Linked DNA regions of Homo sapiens: region 1 is linked to region 2. The links come from fine-mapping of genetic effects on gene expression. A gene starts in region 2. The other region holds a variant in brackets. All regions are shown on one strand. Distances are from middle to middle.

Region 1 (8,000 bases), 34 kb before region 2:
GGACTTTTAGAACCACCCAACACACAGCAGGCTGACACATCAACTCCAAAATCACACTGCACCAGGAGGGCGGGTGAGCAATGCTCTATCTGAGTCAGAACTTAGTTCAGAAAAGATGATTCAGGAAGCTGAGATGCATTTGAGAATTGTTTTTCTTTACTTTAACTTTAAATTTCGGGCACCGAAACCAAATGCACCTGACAGCACCCTCCTGAGTTCACGCACTCACTAGGAGAAGAGAATCAGAATCCAGCCCCGGAGGAAGGGCCCCAGTTTCTTTCTCCCCACTCGCGAAGTTCGCATCTTTCGGAATAAAACCACTGAAACACAATCAGGGCTACGTGCATTACCTGTGGCCACTTTCCGTTGGACTGCGCCCGTCTCTTGATTTCTTCTACTGTTTTCCTGCGAGAATCCTGGTCTGACCGGGACACGAACACAGGCCGTATATACTGGATCAGAGCTGGAAGAGAGGAGGGGAGACGGATCACGTGGAATGCACGGCTCCCGCCAGGCAGGGCTGAGGAACGAGGGGGCTGCTGCATGGCGCCCAGTGGGGCGGGAGACTCCAGATGCCCCAGGGGCTGTGCCATGGGTGGGCTGTGAGTCCCTGACTGAGGGAACGGGAACAGCACCCGGGCTTCCCATGTCTGTGACAGCAGGAAGCCCTGTAGCCTCAGTGCCACAAGTAACAAACAGCAAGTCCATGGCACCCACTGAGGACACGGAGCACAGAACGGAGGTCAATGAAAGACAACCGCCAGGAAGCAGAAAGTCTTTAGACCCAGTCTTCACAGAGGACAGGGTTGAAGGTGCCAGGTCCCTAGATTGGACCCCGCCTTCCCCCTGTGGGTTGAACTGCATCCCCTAAAAGACAAGCTGAAGTCCTCACTCCTGGTACCGGGAATGGGACCTCATTTCGAAACAGGTGGTAGCAGATGCTCAAGGTCCCGGATGAGGGTCCCTATGGGAAGAGGAGACAAAGCAGATGCTCAAGCTAAAATCCCAGATGAGGGTCCCTATGGGAAGAGGAGACGAAGAGGGGGAGAGAAGGCCAATGATGAAGGAGGCCATAGGAGGATGTGGCCACAGCCCCCACCACGAGCCGGGAGGGCCGAGGGAGCTTTCAGAAGAGCCCAATGCGGCCAGCACTTTGTTCTGGCACTTCTGCTTTTAGACGGCGGGAGAATATGCTCCTGTTGTTCTAAGCCACCAGCTTTGTGGTGCTTTGTAGCACAGCCCCAGTTTAACCATGGCACCCCACAGCCTCCTGGAAGTTGCGGGGTTGGGGTACAAGGGACACCCCGCCATGAAGGCTGGTGCTCAGCCAAGGCAACGTGGCCACGGCACCTGTCTTTATGCAAGAGGATTGAACGTGGAAACATACTTCTTAGAAGAGAAAACTCTGAAGACTTTAAAATGAAACTATCCCTGAGTGGAGCTTCCTTTTTGAGGACGGTGAGCAGGATCCACACTCGGCGCCCCCCAGGCCAACTGAAGGTGTCTCTGACCCCACCACGGGCTCCTAGGCTGCTGCAGGTCAGCCCCACCTCCCCACCCCAGTTCAGTTTCCAGTTTCTTTTCTTAGCGTTTTTATTACTTGTAAGGAGTAGCATTTCATGACTTTTATTCTTTCTTGGAGGTTCTCTCCTCCAAGAACGAGAAAATTGAAGCCAAAAAAAGAAAATTCCTTCTATCCTGTGGTTGTCTGTTGGGTCTCTGTGGTCTTTCCTATGTCTTGAATCATTTTGCTTTTTCACGATTCCAGTACTATTTCATCCTTGCTCATTGGTTATTCCCAACTCTGCTAAAAAGGACGATATCGGAAGGGAAGAATGGCGGAGTCGTCTCGCAGGATGGCGCACGCGTCAAAGAAATGGCCCTGATTGCGTGGTCTTTCGGTGCCCACTGTTTTGGCCAAAGCGTCCCATGGTCGTCCCGGGGCACACGGGGTCTGGAGATGCCACCCTGCCACCTTCGCAATCCTGTCAGCTGGTTTGTTTTGTGAACAGAGTAGAGATTTCAGAAGTTGTCTATAACGGCAAAGAACAGAACAGTGACGTGGGGGCGTTTCACACTCAGATGGGTCCGGGGGTAAATGTGGGGGGTGCAGGGGGAGGACTCTGAGTGAAGTCTTGGGCCGTGCGTCTTCATGTGGGTTGCCCGGTGTGCCTTTCACGCTGAGAACTGGGCAGTGAGGACAGCAAGGAGATGCAGCTCCTCCCCGGGAGCCCTGAGGAGGGAAGGGTGTCACCACGCCGTGTGCACAGCCACACTGGGACTGGCGCATTTTGCCAGCAAGAAGGTGACAGCGTTCTGCCGTCTTTTGGGCATTTGAGGCTCAAACTTTCCTTGACAAGGTTTGTAAATGGATGGTGCGGATATGAAGGTCACTGAAAGGAAACTAAGAATGTGAAAAGGAAAAAATCTACCTGGTTGATCACTTTCATTGGTATTCATACATCTAAAAATGAAAATATTTTGAACATTTTCAACATTCATCTCTTCAACAAAGTTGTGAGCTGTCAAAGGGTCCACGAAAGGAACCAGAAGTCACCACAAGCTGGGACCGGGGAGATGTCTCTGAGCTGGAAACCTGGGAGACGTCTCTGAGCTGGGACCAGGGGAGATGTCTCTGAGCTGGAAACCAGGGAGATGTCTCTGAGCTGGGACCATGGGAGATGTCTCTGAGCTGGAAACCAGGGAGATGTCTCTGAGCTGGGACCAGGGGAGATTATCTCTGAGCTGGGACCACGGGAGATGTCTCTGAGCTGGAAACCTGGGAGATGTCTCTGAGCTGGGATGGGGGAAGATTATCTCTGAGCTGGGACAAGGGGAGATGTCTCTGAGCTGGAGCCTGGGGAGATGTCTCTGAGCTGGGGCCTGGGGAGATGTCTCTGAGCTGGGGCCTGGGGAGACGTCTCTGAGCTGGGGCCTGGGGAGACGTCTCTGAGCTGGGACCTGGGGAGATGGTTTTGAGCTGGAGCCTGGGGAGATGGTTCTGAGCTCCCGAATCAGAGGGTGCTCCAGGTGCGCAGTAGAGGAGTCATCAGCCACGCCCCAGGACAATGGCCCTTTCAGGCCAGGACAGCAGGGAGCAAAATGTGGTTCCTGCTAAGTCTGAATTCTAACGAAAATTTCTGATAAGCTTGTCACTATCCTCTCCCTCGCAGGTCCGTGGATTATCTCTGAAATGACAAGAAACACGCAGGGCTCCACGAGGGCCCTGCACACAGCAGCATGGCTGTGGCCATTCTTCCTGCTGCGCCGAGATGAAGGTCAGTGCTGGGTCACCTGGGTTGATCTGGAAGAGGTGGAATCCCGGGCCTCTAGAAAGATAGGACTACAACGTCCAGCATCACCGCACCAAACACTCCTTCGTGTTGGTGATCTCCACAGGGAGGCACCAAGGGCACAGGGAGAGCCCGGCCAACGCTCAGATTCACTCTGGGTGGGCCAGCCCCCCTGTCCAAGGACCCCTGCAGCTGCGAGGGTGCCTGGGCACACAGCTCCACAATCCCCCTCCCTGAGCAGATGACGAACGACCATGGGCCTTTGCCACAGTGGGGGGGCAAATGTGGTTTCCTGGGTATGCCAGAACCACAGGATGCAAAGGGTGCTGAGTGGAGCTGGGGCTGCCCCATGAGCCTGTGGAGCTTGCAGAGCGGGGAAACCTGCGTGTGAGAGCCAAGGCCATCACTCGGATGGTGCCTGCAGTCCAGTCTCGCCTCCAGTGCCGGCCTGTCCAGCCTCCTCCAGGCTTCCCCAGCCAGCCGAGTGCAGTGAGCCCTCCAGTCCCACCAAGGACCATCCCCGATTTCCAAGCCTGACCCAGGCAGACTCAGGCCACCCACAACTGCCCAGCTGCAGGCACAGTCTGGACACCTTCCGGCTGCTGCAGGCCCAATCCCCCATGGGCCATGCCAGGGTTCCTCACCCCACTTCCAGCCTTCCTATCCCAGCTGTGGCCACCACCCTCAGTGGTCAGCACCACAGAATGTGTCCCCACCCAGTCCATACTGAATGTGTCCCCCCAGATATTTTCTAGAAAACTGTCATATGAATGCTAACGTTAGGTGCTGCATGGAAACAGAGCCGGCAGGAGTGGCCAGGTGAGGGCCCCGGCCATAGGCGACGCCCCTCGTCCCAGCAGCTCCTTCCCTCAGCACCGCCCACTGCCAACCCAGGACCCGCTGTGCCCCAGAACGTGCTGTGCTGTGCTGATGGCGGCTGTGAAGGAAGCACGAGGACAGAACGGGCCCAGATGCCCTGAAGAGCACCGAGGACAGAGCTCTGGTGGGTCAGGGCTGCGCACAGGTGGGTGAGGGGCCACGCAGGGCTCCCTACAGTCCTCCCAGAGCAGTGGGTCCATGGGATGCGGCCCCCAAAGATGGGTCCACATGCTGACCCTGGAACCTGTGAATGAGGCCTTATTTGGAAAAAGGTTTTTACAGAGGTAACTCGTTAAGGATCTCAAGATGAGAGCATCCTGGATCACCCAATGACTGGTCCTTATAAGAGACTCATAGAGGAGACACTTGGAGGGAGCCAGGCCAGTCGACCACTGAGGCAGAGTCAGAGGGACGCAGCCCCCAGAGGAGGAAGAGGCAGGAAGGGGCCGCACAGGGCCTTCGGCCCAGAGACGCCTTGATTTTGAACATCTGGTCCCCAGATGACGAGAGGGTGAATCTCTGCTGGAGTGAGCCCCCGGCTTTGGGGAGGGGTCATGGCAGCACCAGGTGCTCAGGTCCCTGGTTCACGGCACAGCCGCGGTGCATGGGCAGCCCTGCCGACCTGCTCCCAAAGACTTCCAGAACTGCCATCTGATAAAGGTGAGCCACCCTTGCCAAGCAGACCTGGAGCAAGCACTGTAGCCTGTTATGATAGTGAGGGCACTCAGGTAGCAATAAAAATAACAATTACAACAA[C/T]GAAAATTACACAGGAAACCCCAACACAGAAAATGGGGCACAAGGCCAATGTGCCCGGCGGTGGGGGCTCGATCACTCCCAGCAGCGTGGTGGGGGGGGGGTCCCTCACTCCCGGTAGGGAGGGTCTCACTCATTTCCAGCAAGTGGGGGTCCCTCATTCCTAGCAGGGAGGGATCTCTCATTCCCAGAAGGGGGGGTCCCTAAAAACCAGCAGGGAGTCCCTCATTGCCAGCAACAGAGGGGGTCTCACTCATTCCCAACAGAGGGGGGACCCTCACTCCCAGCAGGAGGGGAATCTCTTATTCTCAGCAGCAGGGGGATCTCTCACTCCCAGCAGGGCAGGGTCCCTCACTCCCAGCAGGGGTGTCTCACTCACTTCCCCAGATCGGGATGTCTCTGCTCTCTGCCTTCATCACGATGGAGGACATCGTCATGGTCACAGGGATGGCGTCGAAGTAGGACGAGTGAGGCGCGAGCGTGAGGATGGCCGCCTCGGTGGGCAGCGCCTGCCGCCCCTTCACGGCCACCCGGTGGAAGCCGCCGGCGAACCACATGGTGCGCATGATGGCCTTCAGCAGGAAGTCCACAACCCTGCAAAAGAGGGCGCTGCGTCACGCGGGCACACGTCCGCAGTCTCGGAGTCTGTGTGAGGCACAGGGGCGGTCCCACGGGAGAGCCCTCCAGGGCGCAGTCCAGGCCACGGGCTTCCTGTGGTCGCCGCCGCTGGGACATCTGCTTGAGGGAAGAAAAGACGCCGCGCCTTCCTGGCCTCCGCCTGTGTCCTCGCTGGCTGCGCTCTCACCTACGAAGGAGGCCGCGGGGCCCTGTGTGGTGGTCACGGGCCACGCGGCAGGCAGTGCTAAGACAACATGAGACTCCGGAACACAGACAGCACAAGTCCCAGGCCAGAAGACCTCCGGACCTTCATGTTAGCAACTTATTTATCAGCATCCTATCATTTTGAAATGGGAAAAACATTAAAACACCTAAAACGCATATCGCAATATGGGGGGGGGGGCGCTCAGAGCTGAGGGCGGAAGCTGAGACCTGCGTGCGAACTTCCCCATCTCATCTCCACAGGAAGCCCGGGGTTCCCACAACCAGGCGTTGTGTTATTACAGTGAGCTGTTTCTGGAGGAAATTAGATGGCCAATAAATTTGGAAAATAAAGTAAAAATCAGCCTAGGTTAACTGAATTTGTGTACTCTTTATCTCTTTTTAAAATAGGTACAAATTTAGCCTTTTAAATGTGTGTATTCTCTTTCATATGAGGCTACAGATTAGGCTGTTATTCCACACCTCAGGGAATTGACACGCAGCAGACAGCCACGGTGTGTGAGAAGCCACAGGTCAGGCACACAGAGAACATGATTCAGCCTCATGAGAAGCCACGGCTCACTCGGCCACTGGGTTAAGTGGGCGCATCACACTGGGTAAAACTACTGCACAGAGAAACAAGAGCCTGAAGCCTTACTGGATTCACATTGCCCTGGGACAGATGATCCTCCCAGAAGACTTCCAGGACAGGGGTCCCCATGGATCTGAGCCAAGGCGGTTGCTAGGAGGGCACAAAGCCTCCTCTCGTGGGGCCACCTTGGAATGGCCTTTGTGTATGCGATGATAAACAATGGTGTAGTTACACATGGAGATGCTGGGGACCAACCCAGGGTGCTGCTTGTCTAGAGGAGGGGGGATTACACAGGTGTGCACTTCTTCACCACCTGTTCAGCTGCATATTTAAAAATGTACTTTTCTGGCCAGGCATGGTGGCTCACGCCTGTAATCACAGCACTTTGGGAGGCCAAGGCAGGTGGATCACTTGAGGTCAGGAGCTCAAGACCAGCCTGGCCAACATGGTGAAACCCTGTCTCTACTAAAAATACAAAAATTAGCTGGGCATGGTGGCAGGCGTCTGTAATCCCAGCCACTCAGGAGGCTGAGGCAGGAGAACTGCTTGAACCCAAGGGGCGGAGGTTGCAGTGAGCCGAGATTGCGCCACTGCACTCCAGCCTGGGCAACAGAGTGAGACTCCATCTCAAGAAAACTAAACTAAAAAATAAAGATGTACTCTTCTGTGCACATGTTATTTTCCACAAAAAAAAAAAAAAAGTACAAAAACAAAAGCCAAAAGACAGCAATTGATGCCTAAGATGGAAGAAACAAGGCAGCGGCGGAGGGAGAAGCGAGGCTGCAGAGGAGGCTGCGGCGGGCACAGGAGCCAGTCTCGGGCAGGTTCAGGGGCAGGAGAGAGGACAGCAGGAAAAAAGGGATTAAAACCCGGGCGGCCCTTAGAGGAACACACCTGCCAGCCCCGAAATCGAATTGCAGGGACAGACGGTGCTCAGGGGAACTGTACTGGGTGTCGGGGCAGGGAAAAAGCAGCCTCAGCTCTTCTCTAAAGATCTTGGAGGAATTTTATACCCAAACTATCCACATGTGAAAACCCGGACTGCTGGTGTGGATGACAGCCTCAGAGAAAAGCTCCGCTTGCTGTGGGGTTGGGGACCCAGCACCCACTCACCCCAAGGCAAAGGGAGCCAGCACAAGCCCAGGGTGCTCAGGTGCCTGGGCAGCCCATTCCCAGGGGAATGTGAATCAGGAGACAGATCTATCTGCATACACAGGAGCGGGGATCTCCATCAGCACCCCCAGGAAATCCACTCCGTCCTACCGCCCTCACACGGACGACACCCAAGAATCCTGAGACGTGTGAGCAGAGCAGCTGCATGGCAGAGAAGCAGAGGACTGACCCCAAGGAGACAGAAAGGGTGGGCATCAGAAGAGGGGTGCAAAACATCCACCACGCTCGCCAAGAGAGTCTGGAAGAACAGGGCGCTGAGGAGCATCAAAGAACAAGAAAACACTCTCAGAAACCAAGACTGTCACTGTGGAGACAAGCAACTCACAGGAAAGACTGGGAAATGAGGAGGAGGAAATCTCCCAGAACATGCAGGGGGAAAAGGAGGAAGGCCGCTGAGGCCTGCATCTCCTCAAGCCAGCTGGCATGTGGAGGTGGGTGGGGGAAGCCCACACGTCTAAGCGTGAGGGGCAGGCGCAGGCCCCGGCTCTGCA
Region 2 (15,378 bases):
TGTATGCACTTATGTATATGTGTATGCATGTGTGTACACACATATTCTCATACACACACTCATATTAGAAACCCAAGTTTTAGGACAGAATGCTATAAAAAATGAAAAGTAAAGTCTTTTCCGATTTTGAACCCCCCTTCCCATTTTGCAAAGTTAACCACAACTAAGTTTCACGAGTGCGTCATTCGGAAAATTCATTCGGAAAATTAGACAGGATTACAGGAACGCTCTCGATGACTTTGAGAAAAAAGCCAGTTCCCTAAGGTCAGGGCTCCTTGTGAGGTGAGGGCAGGCATCCATGCTAAGCCAGCCCACGCTGCCCTCCCTGCCTGGGAGACGGCACAGCAGCTGGGCCTCTGTGTCCTCACCTGTGCTTCCTGGGGCAAAGGATGACAGTGACCAGAGGCGAGGACACGGGAAAATGACGCTTGGGCCTCTACTGGGCCAAAACAGTTGGCACCATCACACCCAGGTCATCAGAAGGCAGCTGGGGGCCATGGGCCTGGCACCGTCTCCAAGGCCTCTGAGGCATCCAGGGAGACAGCAGGCCCTGTACAGCCCTGGCCTTCTCCATCCTCCCCAAGGGACAGGCACTCTCCTGCACATCCTCCACAGGGTGTGGCTGCCCTGTGCTCCCACCGGGTACACTGCCCAGGGCTCCTTGGCCCACCCCACCCCTCCACATCCACTGCCCGGCAATGGGGCTGAGCGAAGAGCCAGTCTTACTGAATCCAGGCAGGCAGCACCCAGGGACCCAGTGGGCAGCAGGAGCAGCTCAGAGAAGCCTGAGGAACCCCCATCCCCGTGCATGTGTGCCTGGAGGGCACCAAGGGTCAAGAACACACTGCAAACACAGCCATCCACGTGAGGAGCCTGGCAACGTGTGCAGGCACACGAATTCCTGTTCTGCAGTGGCCATGCTGGACTCAGGAGCGAGGCTGAGAGGGCGGAGTCCTGCTCCTGAGTTTTTTTAAAAAATCACAACTCAGGTATTTGTATAAAAATGTGGAGAAAAAGATGGCCCACTTTTGGGTAAATTCTATGCAGGGCCACCAGGCAGGGAGGGGCAGAATCTGTCCCTGGACTCAACCCTCATCATAATCCTCTCTGTGGATTAGCCAGCGTGGGCAGGCGGGCACCCAGCAGCCTCCTCCACTCTGAGACAGCAACGCCCGTCCAAGGACTCAGCTCCAAGGTGCACAGGAAGGCATTATGCTTTCCAGGATGTAAGTTCTTGCCAACTCTGGTTCCGAGCAGCAGAGACTTTAGAAATGGGGAAAATGGGCCGGGCGCGGTGGTTCACGCCTGTAATCCCAGCACTTTGGGAGGCCGAGGCGGGAGGATCACAAGGTCAGGAGATCGAGACCATCCTGGCTAACACGGTGAGACCCCATCTCTACTAAAAATACAAAAAAAAATTAGCCGGGCATTGTGGCGGGCGCCTGTAGTCCCAGCTACTCGGGAGGCTGAGGCAGGAGAATGGCGTGAACCCGGGAAGCAGAGCTTGTAGTGAGCCGATATCGCACCTCTGCACTCCAGCCTGGGCGACAGAGAGAGACTGTCTCAAAAAAAAAAAAAAAAAAAGAAAAAGAAAAAGAAAAAAAAAAGAAATGGGGAAAACGCATCAGAACCATAGTGGGAAATACTCATACCCACAGATTCCAAGGAAAGTACCGAGAAAACCCTGGGTGACAGAAACCACTTCATGACTCCAAAACGATATATGAATGTGTGACTATGAAGAACCTCAGCTGAACTCACTAAGATCCTGTACCATACCATTTACCGCTCTCTACTAAATCTATATCCTTGCTTTAGCCAGAGGATTAAAACATTGCACGTATTACAGACCCTGATGGCTTTGATACCTCTTTTCAGATCTTAATGTGCTGTTTTCTGTCCAAAGAGATACTTAAGCTCCTCACTAAATCTGTAGTTAAATGACAGATGGGCTGGCTGGAGGAGGAGGTGTCCCCGCATGGCGCTAATCCGAAGACACACAGCAGCCCCTCCCAGGCGGCAAATGCTCACAGGTAAATGCAGGTACTCACTGGTTTATCTCAACTGGGAACTTAGCTGGGTTTCTGCGGGTTCTTGAGTGTGTCAGCCACTACTGGACCCATTTCTTTCTTTGGGGAAGAAGGCTTTCTTGGCTTGAAAGACAGGCTATTTCACTCTGTGGAAACTTTACAAGAATATATCACATCAAAGTAAAAGCTTTGCAAAGCAATGCTTGGTGAAAAGCAAAATGTTTCTGCAGAGAACTTTGAGAACGTTTACAAACTAAACCCTTGAGCCACACATTGCAGACATCCAGCAGAAACGACTGGATGTACAAACACACCTAATTCCTCAGATGGAACCTCTGAAGTGGCAACAAAGCAAGCCCCCTCTCTGAGAGGCCCCAACACCTCAAGCCAGGATCTCTGCCTGGCTTCGGCCCAAGGGAGAACAGCTGCCCAAAGCCTTCAATCTCGGGACCAGGAGCCTCTCGATGACCCCCTGCCCAAGAGCCACTGGGAGCAGCTTGCACCCTGAGGTCTCGGGGAGGAAAGCAGGCCCCTCTGGGCACTCTGGCAGTGCCCTGACATCTGTACCTACCCATGAGAGTCTCTGCCCTGCTTCTCGCCAGGGCAGTGGGTGCACACTTTTGGACAGAACACACCTCAACCGGGGGCTGCAACTATGACAGGGATGACGAAGTGGCCTCCGGGGACCTCCAGGGAGGGGCTTGATGTTTCCCCCCAGGGAGCCAGGAGGGAGTAGGAAAGGCAGGAAGAGAGAGCATGCCTGAGGCAGCCATAGCTGGGGCAGGAGCAGGGCTGGGGAAGCCCTGGAAACCACAGCAGGGGTTCGAATTTCATCCGGGGGCGTCCCCGCTGAGGGCTTCCGAGCAGCAGAGTGCAGGAGGAAGAAAGCCTGCTGGGAGTGACTCAGGGAGAGTGACCAGGGAGAGAGCCTGGTGGCTGGGTGGGGGTGAGGATTGAAGAGGAGGAATGGTTGAGGGGCACAGAATGAGCGACCGTGTCCCAAGTCCTCCTTTGAGGGGCACAGCACACGGCAGCTGACAGCGTGTGGCAGACAGAGGGCCAGGCAGAGCGGCGGCAGAGGGGCCGGCACCGCCCCAGCCCCAGAGTCCAGCTCCCGACACACAGGGAGACGGGGGCCAGGGCCTGGGAGCCAGGCTGGGGACGACCTCACCCTGTGTGTCACCAGGAGGGGCGGCACCATCGGGCTCTCCTGCTCCCCGTCCCCTTCCATACCCTGAGGACCAGCCGCATCAAGGGGCTTTGAGCAAAAGCAGGCGTCCTGGGAAAATGACAAGCTCAAACTGGCCTCAAGAACTTTTCACTTCAGGGTTCTTTCAGATAAAGTACTTTATGCATTAACAAATCTCCATCTTCCCGGAAATCTATTCTCACAATTGGAAGCGTGCTCCCTACAAACCGGACAGCCCCATAGGCCCCGAAACAGTGCTTGCTTCTAGGAATTATTCTAGAGTCAAAAGTAAGGTCCTCTTGAGAGTGGATCTCAGGTAACTGTAAGCCCAGCTGGCAGCCAGGTAGCCGGAAAAGCCAGGCTGAGCCAGCACATCCCCGGTGCAGCTTCCTGCAGCGAGCGGCCCCCTCCCCACGACGCCCCCGGGTCTCCCCTCACCACTGTCCCATCGCAGGATCTCAGCAAACCGTTCCCTCCCACGTGGCAGCCCAGGTTGCATAAAGTTGATTCGGGTCAGACCAGCCCCGAGAAAGCATCCCTTACAACAGGAGCGAAGCATGCACCCCAGAAGGCAACGTGCGGCCGCAGAGCAGGGAGACCCGTGCGCCTACAGGGGACCCTACAGGGGACCCGCACCGCCCGCGCGCCCTGTCCCGGGCACCACCAGGCCCCGCACACGAGGCTCACCCAGAGCCGCGGTGCCCTCCCGCCCGCGGGCCGCGTCCAGGCAAAGCCGCTCCGGAGTCCCCGGGCTGCGCGCAGGGCCTGCCAAGGCGGGCGGGGCCCGGACCAGGGACGAGCGCGGGGACCGGCGATGCGGGTCCAGCCTCCCGCGGGAGCCGAGGTCGGGGCTCTGGGAGGCAGAGAAAGGGTTGTGGGCCCGGTTCAGGGTGCAGGGGTCTGGGGGGAGGAGCAGAACGCGGGGCGGGGATGGGAAGCGGGGACCCCGAGGAAGGCGCTGAGGGACCAGGATGCGCGTGCGGGCGGCGGGAAGCCGGCGCCGAGACCGAGGCATCGGGTGCGGGCGGCGGGGACGCGAACTGAGGGGCGGCCGCGGGGAGGGAAGGCGCCGCGGCTCGCAGGGCCGCGCCGCGCCCCAGGCCCCCTCCCCGGCCCCTCCTCGGCCGCGCCTCCCTGGCCCCAGCATCCCTGGCGTCCGCGCCGGCTCCCGGGGCCGCGCGCCCTGGGCACCCACCTGGGCCTTCTGCAGGGCGCTGAGGCGCAGCTCGTGCACGAAGGGGTTCCGCCCCGGGGGCGCCAGCAGCCGAGCGTCGCTGGCCCCTGCGCTGGAGGCAGGGGCGGCCCGGGGTCCGCATCCCCGCAGCCTCATGGCCGCGCCGTCCCGCGGCGAGCGCAGCCGAGCTGCCTGGGGCGCCGAGCGGGGCCGGGGCTAGCTGGGCGCGGGTCTCGGGGCGCGGGCCGAGGATGCGCGGCGGCTGGAGCGGGCCGGGCGCGCAGGCGCGGGAGGTGACGTGGGCGGAGCGGGAGCGCCGGCCGGGGCGGGGCGTCCCTGGAAGCCTCGCCTCCCGCCGGCCGGCAGGGGCGGCACCAGCCGGAGTTCCGCTACCTGGTGGTTTCTCTGGGGTCTGTGGGGGGCCGGGGCCGCTGGGGACCGGGGGCGCCTCCTGCAGCCACTGGAGCACAGGGATCCCCGGCAGGGTCTGCGCCAGGAGAAAGGGAGGTCCCCCGGGCCCGCGAGGCTGCCACGTCGTCCCCTTCCGCCGCTCGGCCCGCCTGCTCGCGGGGAGGGAGGAAGGGGCGGGCACGCGTCCAGCTTACGCGCAAGGCGGGCCAGGCCCTGGGTGCCGAGCCCCGGGCTGTTCCGGCGAAGGCCCCACGCCATTCTTCTTATTCGTTGGGCTCCTAGCTCGCACCGGCGACCCTGGAAGCTGCCCCGGGCTGAGGGAGCTTCTTCCAGCCGCGCCTCAGCCCAGGCGACTCCCGCCTGAGGTCCACTCGACCTTAGGACCCCCCAGACCTCGGGATCCCCTCAGATCTCAGGACCCCTCAAGCCTCAGGACCCCCTCAGACCTCAGGACCCCTCCGATCTCAGGACCTCTCAGGCCTCAGGCCCCGCAGGGATGGCCCAGGCAGGAGGCGCACATAGGGGCCCTGACTGTCCGTGCTGGTTGTGCAGGGGCTGCGATGAGATCCCAGCGCTTTCTCACCCGTAGCTGCTTTGGCTCGGGCATTGCCCTTGTGGTGCTCAGGAGCCGTGTGAGGAGCCCCAGGGTGGGGCCCATAATTAGCCGGAGCGAGAGTAGGATGGGCTCCTGCCTCCGGGTGAACACGCTTGGATTTCAGAACTCACGCAGGCCTTCGGTCACAGTGCTCACGGCTTCCTCACCCCGGCTGGCCCTGTTGGTTCCTTCATGGCCAACGGACCTCACCCAGACAGAGCCGGTTTGGGCCACCTGGCCAACCCCCCAGGGTCCTGGCTCCTGGGGATGTCACTGCTGTGTTGGCCCCAGCTGGGCCCCATCCTCAGCAGACGCCAGGGAGTGCCCCGACCCCTCCAATGACCCTGCCTGCGCCCTTGTGGACCTCATAGTGCAGCGGGCTGGCAGAGACCCTTCTGTGTCTGAGACCGGGGTGAGGGCCAGGGGTCTGTGCCATCCACATATCATGCACAGAGAAGGCCCCGGCAGGCCAGACCCGCTGCATGGCCTTATTCCTGCCCCATAAGAGTCCCAGCCCATATTCCTGCCCCATAAGAGTCCCAGCCCATGCCTAGCAGCAGCACCTGTCCCAAGTGCCACACCCACGGGGATGGGGTGAGCCCTGTGTGCTGGTGGGCATTGGTGGCTCTGTGGCCCAGCCACCAGCGTTGCACCCACCTCCTGGGCTTTTAGTGGCCACTTGCTCTGATCCCCAAAACCAGAGCCCAGCACCCGAGGCCACCCAAGGCTCCTCACCGAACTGATCATCAAGAAAGCCCAGGACACAAAGCCTGCCAGCCACAGGGCAGCACCTGCACCCCAGCGATCCAGGCGGCCCCACCTGCTGCCTGAGTGCTCTGGAGAGGAGGGGCCCTAGGGTGTCCCAGTCCTGGGATGAGAGCAGCCTCAGGACTGGACTTGGAGAGCCATGAAAGTGGGGTCCTCCCAGAAGCACAGGCCAGGAAGCGGTGTGTGGCGGAGGGGAAACCTGCTGGAGATGGTGCAGAGCCAGATTCAATGGGGAGAGCTGCCAGAGAGTCATGGCTGTGTCCCCAGAAGATGCAAAAGTCCTAACCCACAGCACCTGTGGCCGCGACCTTATTTGGAAACAGGGTCTTTGCAGATGATCAGGTTAAGAGGAAGTCATTAGGGTGGGCCCTAGTCTGAAATGGCTTGTGTCCCTATAGAGAGGGAGATTCGGTCTCAGAGACAGACACAGAGAGAGCTCCATGGGAAGGCCAGGGTTCTGCTGCTACAGGCAAGCAGTTCCCAGGAGCTGGAGAGGCCTGGAGCAGGTCCTCTCTAGTGCTCTCAGAGGGAGCCTAGGCCTAGGGTGCCATGATCGCAGGCTTCTGGCCTCCAGACTGGGAGAGAATAAATTCCTTCTGCTTTAACCTGCAGAGTGCAAAGTGAGTTGGAACCCAGGGAAGGAGGTGGGGAGGCTGGGGGAAGAACCTCATACTGCCCGGCAATCTAAGCAGGGTCAGCAGGTTGTCCTTGAGCCAAGGTCGGTGGAAAGAGGAGTCCCTCTCCCAGAGGGGTCTTAGGTGGAGCCACTGTGGGCAGCGTGGCCTTGGTGTAGAAGCTCAGTGGATCCTTGGGTCACAGGCACCATGTGGAGGAGGCGCAGAGGCCCAGCTCCGGGGTCAGTACACAAGGGGGCACAGCTGGGAGGGTGGGTGTGACAGGGCCAAGGGCTGTGCAGAGCAGGGGGCAGGACTGGGGCACACTCGTCCTCACCAAGCAGAACCCAAGAAGGCCCCAGAGAGCGGCCAAGGAGCGGAGGTCCCCAGAGGGGCTGAGTCCACGGAACTGCCCCATCCAGGAGGACTGGCCAGGAGAGAACTGGGAAGGCCAGCCAGTGGTAGTAGCAAGGGTGGAGACCACCACCCTGCAGGGTGCTGTGGAGTGGGCAGGAGTTACAGAGGTTCTTTCCCAGCTACCTGAGAAAGGAGGAAGCGTGATGGGCAGGAGGAGGAAAATGGATGCTTGGCGGGAGGCTGGGATCCAGGGCAGCAGCTCAAGGAAGGGGCCCAGGACATGTTCCTGGGTGGAAGGCAACAGGCCAGCCTCACAGGAGACGTTGAAAACCCCTGTGAGAGGGGGTGTCATGGGCCCATCTCAGTCTGGAAGGATTCTGCGCTCAGAGGAAGGAAAGGCCTGGGGCCCGGAGCGGGGACTCCTTCTCTGCTGCAGCTGGAAGGGGTTGGATGGTCCACAGGGCACGTGCCCAGGGGGTGGGGAGCTGGGGCACTCTTGTGTGTGGGAGTCAGTTTTCTCCTGGGGACTGCGAGGGGTGGGGGAGAGGGGCTGCTTATGGGGAAATCAGCGCAAGCGTGGAGGAGCAGCAAGGAAATTCCTCCACCCACACTGGGCCTTCACACTTAGGCTTTGGTTCTGCTATGTAATGGAACGTTCTTAAGACCTGGAGGGTCTGGAAGCTTGACTAAGAGAAGTTGGTCTTGGGTGGGGAGGTATAAGCAGTTTTCTCTGTCTAGCAGGGGAAACATGAGTTTCTCATTAGGACTTAGTTTTGGGAAAACCACCCTAAGGGCCCTTTAGCTACAAAGGGAGCCCCCACTGTGGTTCTCAGGAACCTCCTGGAAGCCCCCCACAGCTCCCTGGGGCTGGTAACCACACCCCTGAGGCTTCTTGCTCTGGTTTTGTCTCTGTTTTAAGAGTGTAAGCTCACAGAGAAGTGTTTCCTATACTCCAAGTGCATTGAGAACACAAGGTACCTGCTTGTTCTGGTAAGGCTGAGTATTTTTGTTTTGTTTGTTTAATTTTTGAATTTTAGAGTTATCTATAGGATAGAAAAAGATATTCTCCTTCATTTTCTACTAACATCTTTTTTCAGTTCTGCCTTTCATGGTTGCATTTTATTCTATTTGAAGATTTTTTTCTCTGCATGGAGACCTGATATTCTCAACACCACGTATCAATCACAGACTCCCACTTGTGGGTCCACTTCCAGCATGAACAGAAAGAAGGGTTCCTGAAGCTCCTTCTGGCTGCCCCATCTCACCCATTGGTCCGTGTACTCCTTTACTCCCGTCTCACCCGCCGGTCCGCGTACTCCTTTACTCCTGTCTCACACCTTTCAACCGTCTGCCTTAGTAACTGTAGAGGGGGTTCCTTCCTGTTGGCGCTTCTTCCCAAGAATTGTAGTAGGAATTCAGGGAATTTTATTTTTCCATCCAAATTTTGGAAGCAGTTGTCCCCATTGCTAAAAATTCCCGCTGGAAGCTTCCTTTTGAATCACATTAATTGTACAGGGTACTTCAGTAAGAATGTTACTTCATTCTTACTGTTCATTCTCCCTGTTCCCTAAGAATGTTACTTCAGTAAGAGCTGGCTGGTCCTGGGAGGGGCCCTCGAAGGGCCAGCAAGGCTCCAAGGCTCCAAGGCTTCAAAGCACTAGAAAATACAAAAAAAAAATTTTTTAAATGGATGATGTGGCATGGACACTTTATAATTTTGAGAACGATTTTTCACCAACATGGTTATTCTACCATTTATTTAGATGTTCTTTCATGCCCTTTGATAGCATTTTAAATTTTTCTACATAAAGATTCTGTATTTTTGTTAATTCCTTGATGCTTCATACTTCTGCAGTGATGTAATAATCGTTTCAAAAATTACTCTTGGGCCGGGCGCGGTGGCTCATGCCTGTAATCTCAGCACTTTGGGACGCCGAGGTGGGCGGATCATCTGAGGTCAGGAGTTCGAGACCAGCCTGGCCAACATGGCAAAACCCCATCTCTACTAAAAATATGACAATTAGCCAGGTGTGGTGGCACACGCCTGTAGTCCCAGCTACCCGGGAGGCTGAGGCAGGAGGATTGCTTGAACCTGGGAGACAGAGGTTGCAGTGAGCCAAGATCACGCCACTGTACTCCAGCCTGGGCAAGAACAGAGCGAGACTCTCTTTCAAAAAAAAAAATTACTCTTGACAGTATGGATTATATGGAGAACCACTACTGCTTGTGTAGAGGTTGTATGAAGACAGACCCCAGGGTACAAGAGGACCTGTGGATGTTCCAGATGAGGAGTGCACAGCCCCAGAGTGAGGGACTCCATCATGTACAATGGATGGACTTCCTATTCAACCCACAATCATGACAAACAGAAAATTGTGGTGGTTTTCAGTCACTACAGACTGAGATGGTTTGTTAAGCAGTGATAGTGTCTTTCAAAGAGCAGATATTTTAAATTTTGATGAAGTCCAATTTATCAGCGTTTTCTTTTAGGGATCATGGTTTTGGTATCCTCTTTTATAAATATTTACCTGCATCAAGGTCATTCAGATTTTCTTACTTCAGAAGTTTTACAGTTTTGGCTTTACCATTTAGGTCTGTATTCCATTTCAAGTTGACATTTGTACACGGCATAAAGTAAAGTGGAGGCAGAGGTTTTTTAGTTTCAAATGTTTTCGTCTGAATATTCAACTGTTTCGGCACCATTTGTTGAAGAGAATATTCTTTCTCCATTGAACTACCTTGACAACTTTGTAAAAAAATTAAGTGGCCATATATGTATAGTTGAGTCTATTCCTGGACTCTGTATTTTGTTCCATGGATCTGTACATCTGCAACTGCCAACATCACACTATACTGATTACTAAAGCTTTATATTAGTCTTGAAATTAGACTGCACTGCACTGGAGTGCAGTGGCCCGATCTCGGCTCACTGCAGACTCCGCCTCCTGAGTTCAAGCGATTCTCCTGTCTCAGCCTTCGGAGTAGCTGGGACTACAGGCATGCACCAGCACGCCCAGCTAATTTTTATATTTTTTAGTAGAGACGGGGTTTCACCATGTTGGCCAGGCTGGTCTCGAACTCCTGACCTCAGGTAATCTGCCCGCCTTGGCCTCCCAAAGTGCTGGGATGACAGGTGTGAGCCACCATGCCCAGCCAAAATTTTAGAATCATTTTGTCAAGAAACTGAAGTATCCAGGAACAAACAAACAAAAGGTTGGTGGGATTTTTAATGAGATTGTGTTGAATCTATTGATCAATTTGGGAAAATTGCCATCTTAGCAATATTGAGTTATCCATCCATGAGCATGGTATACAGATCATTTATTTAGGTTTTCTTTAATTTCCCTCAGCAATGTTTTATAATTTTCACTGCATAGGTCTTACATAGGTTTTCGAATTCTGTTCCTATTTCATGTTTTGATGCTGTTATAAATGATACTGCTTCTTAATTTCAATTTCCAGAAGTGTGTTGCTCGTATATAGAACTACAACTGATTTTATGTATTTACTTTGTAGGCATTAACCTTGCTAAATTCATTTATTAGTTCTAGTGACTTTTTTTGTAGATTCTTTAGGATTTTCCCCATTTCACAATCATAATACCTGTAAATAAGGAGCTTTATTTCTTCCTTCACCAGCAACACGTATGCCTTTCGTTGTTTGCATTTCCTCTTGTTCCACTGACTGTGACATCCTCTACAGAATGTTGGACAGAGTGCTGAGACTGGGCATCTTGTCTTGTTAACAATCTTGGGGATTGTTAGTACCCAGTGCCCAGTCTTGACATGAGCTGTGGGTTTTCACAGATGCCCTGAAAAAGGATGAGGGTGTTCCCTTCTATTGCTAGTTTACTGAGTAGTTTTTATCATTTTGGCCAAAAAGCTTGCTCGCGTCTATTGAGATTATCTTAAAATTTTCTTCTTAATCCTGTGAATATGGTGAATTGAATTGGTTCATATTCTGATTTTAAACCAACCTTGTTTTTCTGGATAGGCCTCACTTAACCATACTACACGATTGATTTATTACCGAATTTAAATTGATAAATTTATGTTAAAGATGTTTGTGTCTATGTTCATAAGAAATATTGGCCGTAGTTTCCCTTTCTTATAATGTCTTTGCCTGATTTCTAATGAGGATAATACTGTCTTTAAAACATGAGTTAGGAAGTATTCCAAATTCTCTATTTCTAAGTAAAGAGTGAGTAGGGTTGGTATTATATCTTCCTTAAATGTTTGTTAGAGTTCATCAGGGAAGCTATCTGGAATGAGAATTTTCTTTTTCAGAAAGATTTAAAGATTATGAATTTGAGTGCTTCATTAGATAGGTGTTATTCATCTTTTCTATTTCTTCCATCTAAAAACCTAAATTTTTTTAGTAATTTAGATATTTCCAGGAATTTGTCCGTTTTATCTAAGTTATTGATTTATTGGCATAAAATTGTTTATCATAATCCCTTTTATCCTTTTAATATCTATAGGATCTAGACTGATAGCCCTTGTTCACGTTTATAATATTGGTAATTTGTGTCTTCTTCCTTTTTCTTGATCACTTTGGCTAGAGGTGTATTTTGTTATTGATCTTTAGAAATAGCTGCCTTTTGAATTCATTGATTTTTTCCTATTATTTTTCTGTTTTCTATTTTTGTTGATTTCTGTCTTTATCATTTTCTTTTCTCTCCTTATTTTAGGTTTAATTTGCTCTTCTGTTCCTACTTCCCTAAGTAGGAAGTATAGACCATTGATTTTAGACCTGCCTCATGTAATACCACAAATTTCCTTCTAAGTTCTGCCATATCTACATTCCACAAATGGTGGCATGCTGATTTTTCATTTTCTTTCAGTTTTCAATGTACTTTCTCTTTTCCCATGTGGTTTCTTCTTTGATTACTGTGGCTTTTTTGTTATGTGTTAACTTCCAAATATTTGGAGAATTTCCAGTTAATTTTTATTATAACTTATTTGTGGTCACAATACATACTCTGTATGATTTCAATCCTTTTATAGTCTGTGTTTATGACTGTTCAGGTGTATATTATAAGAAAAGGTTCTCTTGTTTTTGTGTGGAGTGTTCTATGAATGCCAGTTGACTCCATTGGTTGATAGTTTTGTTCAAGCTTCCTGTATCTTTGTGCTTTTCTGTTACTGTTATATGAATGACTGAAAGACCAACTATAATTGTGGATTTGTTTATTTCACCTTTCAATACTGTTAGTCTTTGCTTCGTATATTTTGAAGCTATGTTATTAGGTACATATATATTTGAAATTATTCTGTCTTCCTGGTGAATCAACCTTTCCATCATTATGTTATGTCTCTCTTTTACTCTGGTAACATTTCTTTTTTTTTTTTTTCTTTTCTTTTTTTTTTTGGGACAGAGTCAGTCTATCGCCCAGGCTGGAGTGCAGTGGCACAATCTCGGCTTACTGCAACCTCCACCTCCTGGCTTCAAGTGATTCTCCTGCCTCAGCCTCCCGAGTAGCTGGGATTACAGGTGCGCACCACCATGCCCAGCTAATTTTTGTATTTTTAGTAGAGGTGGAGTTTCACCATGTTGGTCAGGCTGATCTTGAACTCCTGACCTTGTGATCCACCTGCCTCAGCCTCCCAAAGTGCTGGGATTACAGGTGTGAGCCACTGCGCCCAGCCTCTGGTAACATTTCTTGTTCTGAAGTCCACTTTGTCTGATATTCACATAGTCACTCCAGATTTCTTATGTTTAGTGTTTGCGTGGCATATTTTTCCATCCTTTTAATCTTTCTGTGGCTTTATATTTGAAGAAGGTTTCTTGTATACAGCATAGAGTTGGATCTTGCTTTATTATCTAATCTTAAAATCTTTGTCTTTTAATAGGCATGTTTAGATCATCCATATTTGATGTGTTAATATGGTTAGATTTAAATATACAACCTTGCTATTTGTTTTCTGTTGTCTTATCTGGTCTTTTGGTTTACTCTTTAACTGCAGTCTTCTAGATTAATTTAGTATTTTATCTCCACCATTGGCTCATCAGCTATACCTCTTTGTTTTAACTTTTTAGTATCTGCTATTAATATGTGTATTATTGGAAGACATTTTAAATAATACACTGCTTCACATATAATTGAAGACCTTTGCAGTATTACACTTCCACTTCCCTTTTCATCCTTTAAGCTAGTGCTTTCATACATTTCACTCTTATATATGCTGTAGGCCCCACAATATATAATTTTTTTGTCTTGAACAAAGTCTTTTCAAGCGATTTTAAAAAAATTAAGAGGTTTTTGTATTTATCTGTATGTTTGCCATTTCAAGCACTTTCATTGCTCTCTTGAGATTTGAGTTTCCTTCTTGTATCACTTTTCTGCCTTCTGAAGAAATTTTACTAATTTTTTTGCAGTGCAGAGCTGTTTGCAACTAATCTTTTGGATTTGATCTGTATAAAAAACTTTTTTATTTTACCTTCGTTTTGTAGGATTTTTCCCCTGATAAATATAGAATTCTAACTCAACAAGTTTTTATTTTGTTTGTATATTTATTTGCTTTTGAAATTTTGTCTTTATTACTGTTTTCCTGCAAATCAGTTATGATGTACCTGTGTGTGAGAAATCACTGAGCTTCTTTGATTTATGGGTTTATACTTTTAATAAAATTTAGAAAACTAATAGTCATTATTTCCTTTTTATCATGACTTTATTGAATTATAATTGATATATAATAAACCACATAAATTTAAAGTGGACATTTTGCTGTTTTTATATATACACACATATATATGTACACACACACACACACACACACACACACACCCTATGAAATTGCCACTGTATTTAAGATAGGAAACATAGTTATTATTCCCAAAAGCTTTTTCACTCCCTTTTGTAATCCCTACATCCCACCCCTACACATTTCATCCTCAGGCAACCCCTGTTCTACTTTCTGTTGCTGTAAGTTAGTTTGCATTTTCTGAAATTTTATACAAATAAAATCATACAGTTTCTTCTTTGGTTCCAATTATTTCACTCAGCATAACTATTTGAGGTTCACCTTTTTTTTTTGTTTTTATCAATCATTTACTTGTTTTTATTGCTGAATAGTATTCCATTGTATGGATATTTGTTTATCCATTCTCCTGTTGATAAATATTTGGGTTGTTTCTAGTTTGGAACTATTACAAATAAAGATGCTGTGAGCATTTGAGTACAAGTCTTGGTATGGATGTATGGCTTTCATTTTTGTTGGATAAATACTTATCAGTGGGAAGCTGGGTGATACATTTTGAAAGAAACGTTCAAACTCTTGTCCACAGGGGTTGGACCATTTTACATCCCCCAACCCAGACTGTGTATGAGAGTTTCAGTTCTTACATATTTTTGCCTACACTTAGTATGGTAAGACTTTTAGGTTTTAGGCATTCCAATACATATGCAGTGGCGTCTCGTTATGATTTTAATTTGCTTTCCCTTTGAACAATGACCTAGAACATCTGTGCATGTGCTCATTTATCATCCACAAATCTTCCTGATGTGTTCAAATATTTTTCTCATTACAGTATTTTTCTTTGTTTTATTATTAATGGGTCTAGAGAGTTTTTATATATTGTGAATACAATTTCTTTATAAGATAAGTGATTTGCAAATATTTTGTACCATTCTGTGGCTGCTTTTTCATTGTTTTAACAATATTTCTCAAAGAGAAGTTTTTAATTTTTTATGTTCAATTTACCTTTTTAAAAAACAATCATGCTTTTGATGTTATATCTAAAAATATCTCTGCTTAATTCAAGGTTATGAATAGTTTCTCTTGTTTTCTTCAAGAAGTTTTATAGTTTATATTTTATAATTAGGTCTATAATCCATTGTGAGTTAATTTTTACATGGTATGAGGTATAGATACGAGTTTTTTATTTTTATTTTTTTACCTATAGATGTAGAATTGTTCCATATCATTTGTTGTAAGACTATCCCTTCTCCACTGAATTGCCTTTGCAGCTTGGTGAAAAATTGATTGACCACATCTGTGTGCTTCTGTTTCTGGGCTGACTATTCATTGCATTGACCTATTTATTCATTTGGATGCAAGTCTTGACTACTGTAGTTTTATAATATGTCTTAAGATCCGGTGACATTAGTTCTTAACCTTAGTTTTTCTTTTTGAAAGTTGTTCCAGTTTTTTGAGGTCCTTTTGATTTCCATATGAATCTTAGAATCAGTTTGTCAATTACTACAGAAAAAATTCTGCAATTTTGAGATTATGTTGGCA

The links. PIP is the estimated chance that this variant, and not a neighbour inherited with it, causes the effect.
Region 1: its variant is fine-mapped to the expression of LPCAT1 in lymphoblastoid cells (TwinsUK, PIP 0.95).

Annotation. Positions count from the first base shown.
Region 1 is chr5:1,489,396-1,497,395 of GRCh38, forward strand. It overlaps LPCAT1 (lysophosphatidylcholine acyltransferase 1), which reads right to left. Exons shown (of 14, transcript NM_024830.5): 3 at 5,305-5,519; 4 at 351-463. It overlaps LOC124901162 (a long non-coding RNA gene), which reads left to right and starts at 136. Exons shown (of 2, transcript XR_007059103.1): 1 at 136-3,278; 2 at 4,077-6,124. RefSeq lists an enhancer at 4,542-5,741. The variant C/T (reference allele first, on the strand shown) is at 4,929.
Region 2 is chr5:1,519,296-1,534,673 of GRCh38, forward strand. It overlaps LPCAT1 (lysophosphatidylcholine acyltransferase 1), which reads right to left and starts at 4,665. Exons shown (of 14, transcript NM_024830.5): 1 at 4,415-4,665. The coding sequence starts at 4,549. RefSeq lists an enhancer at 2,188-2,692, silencers at 3,853-4,052, 4,323-4,632, 4,653-5,052 and a cis regulatory region at 5,822-6,057.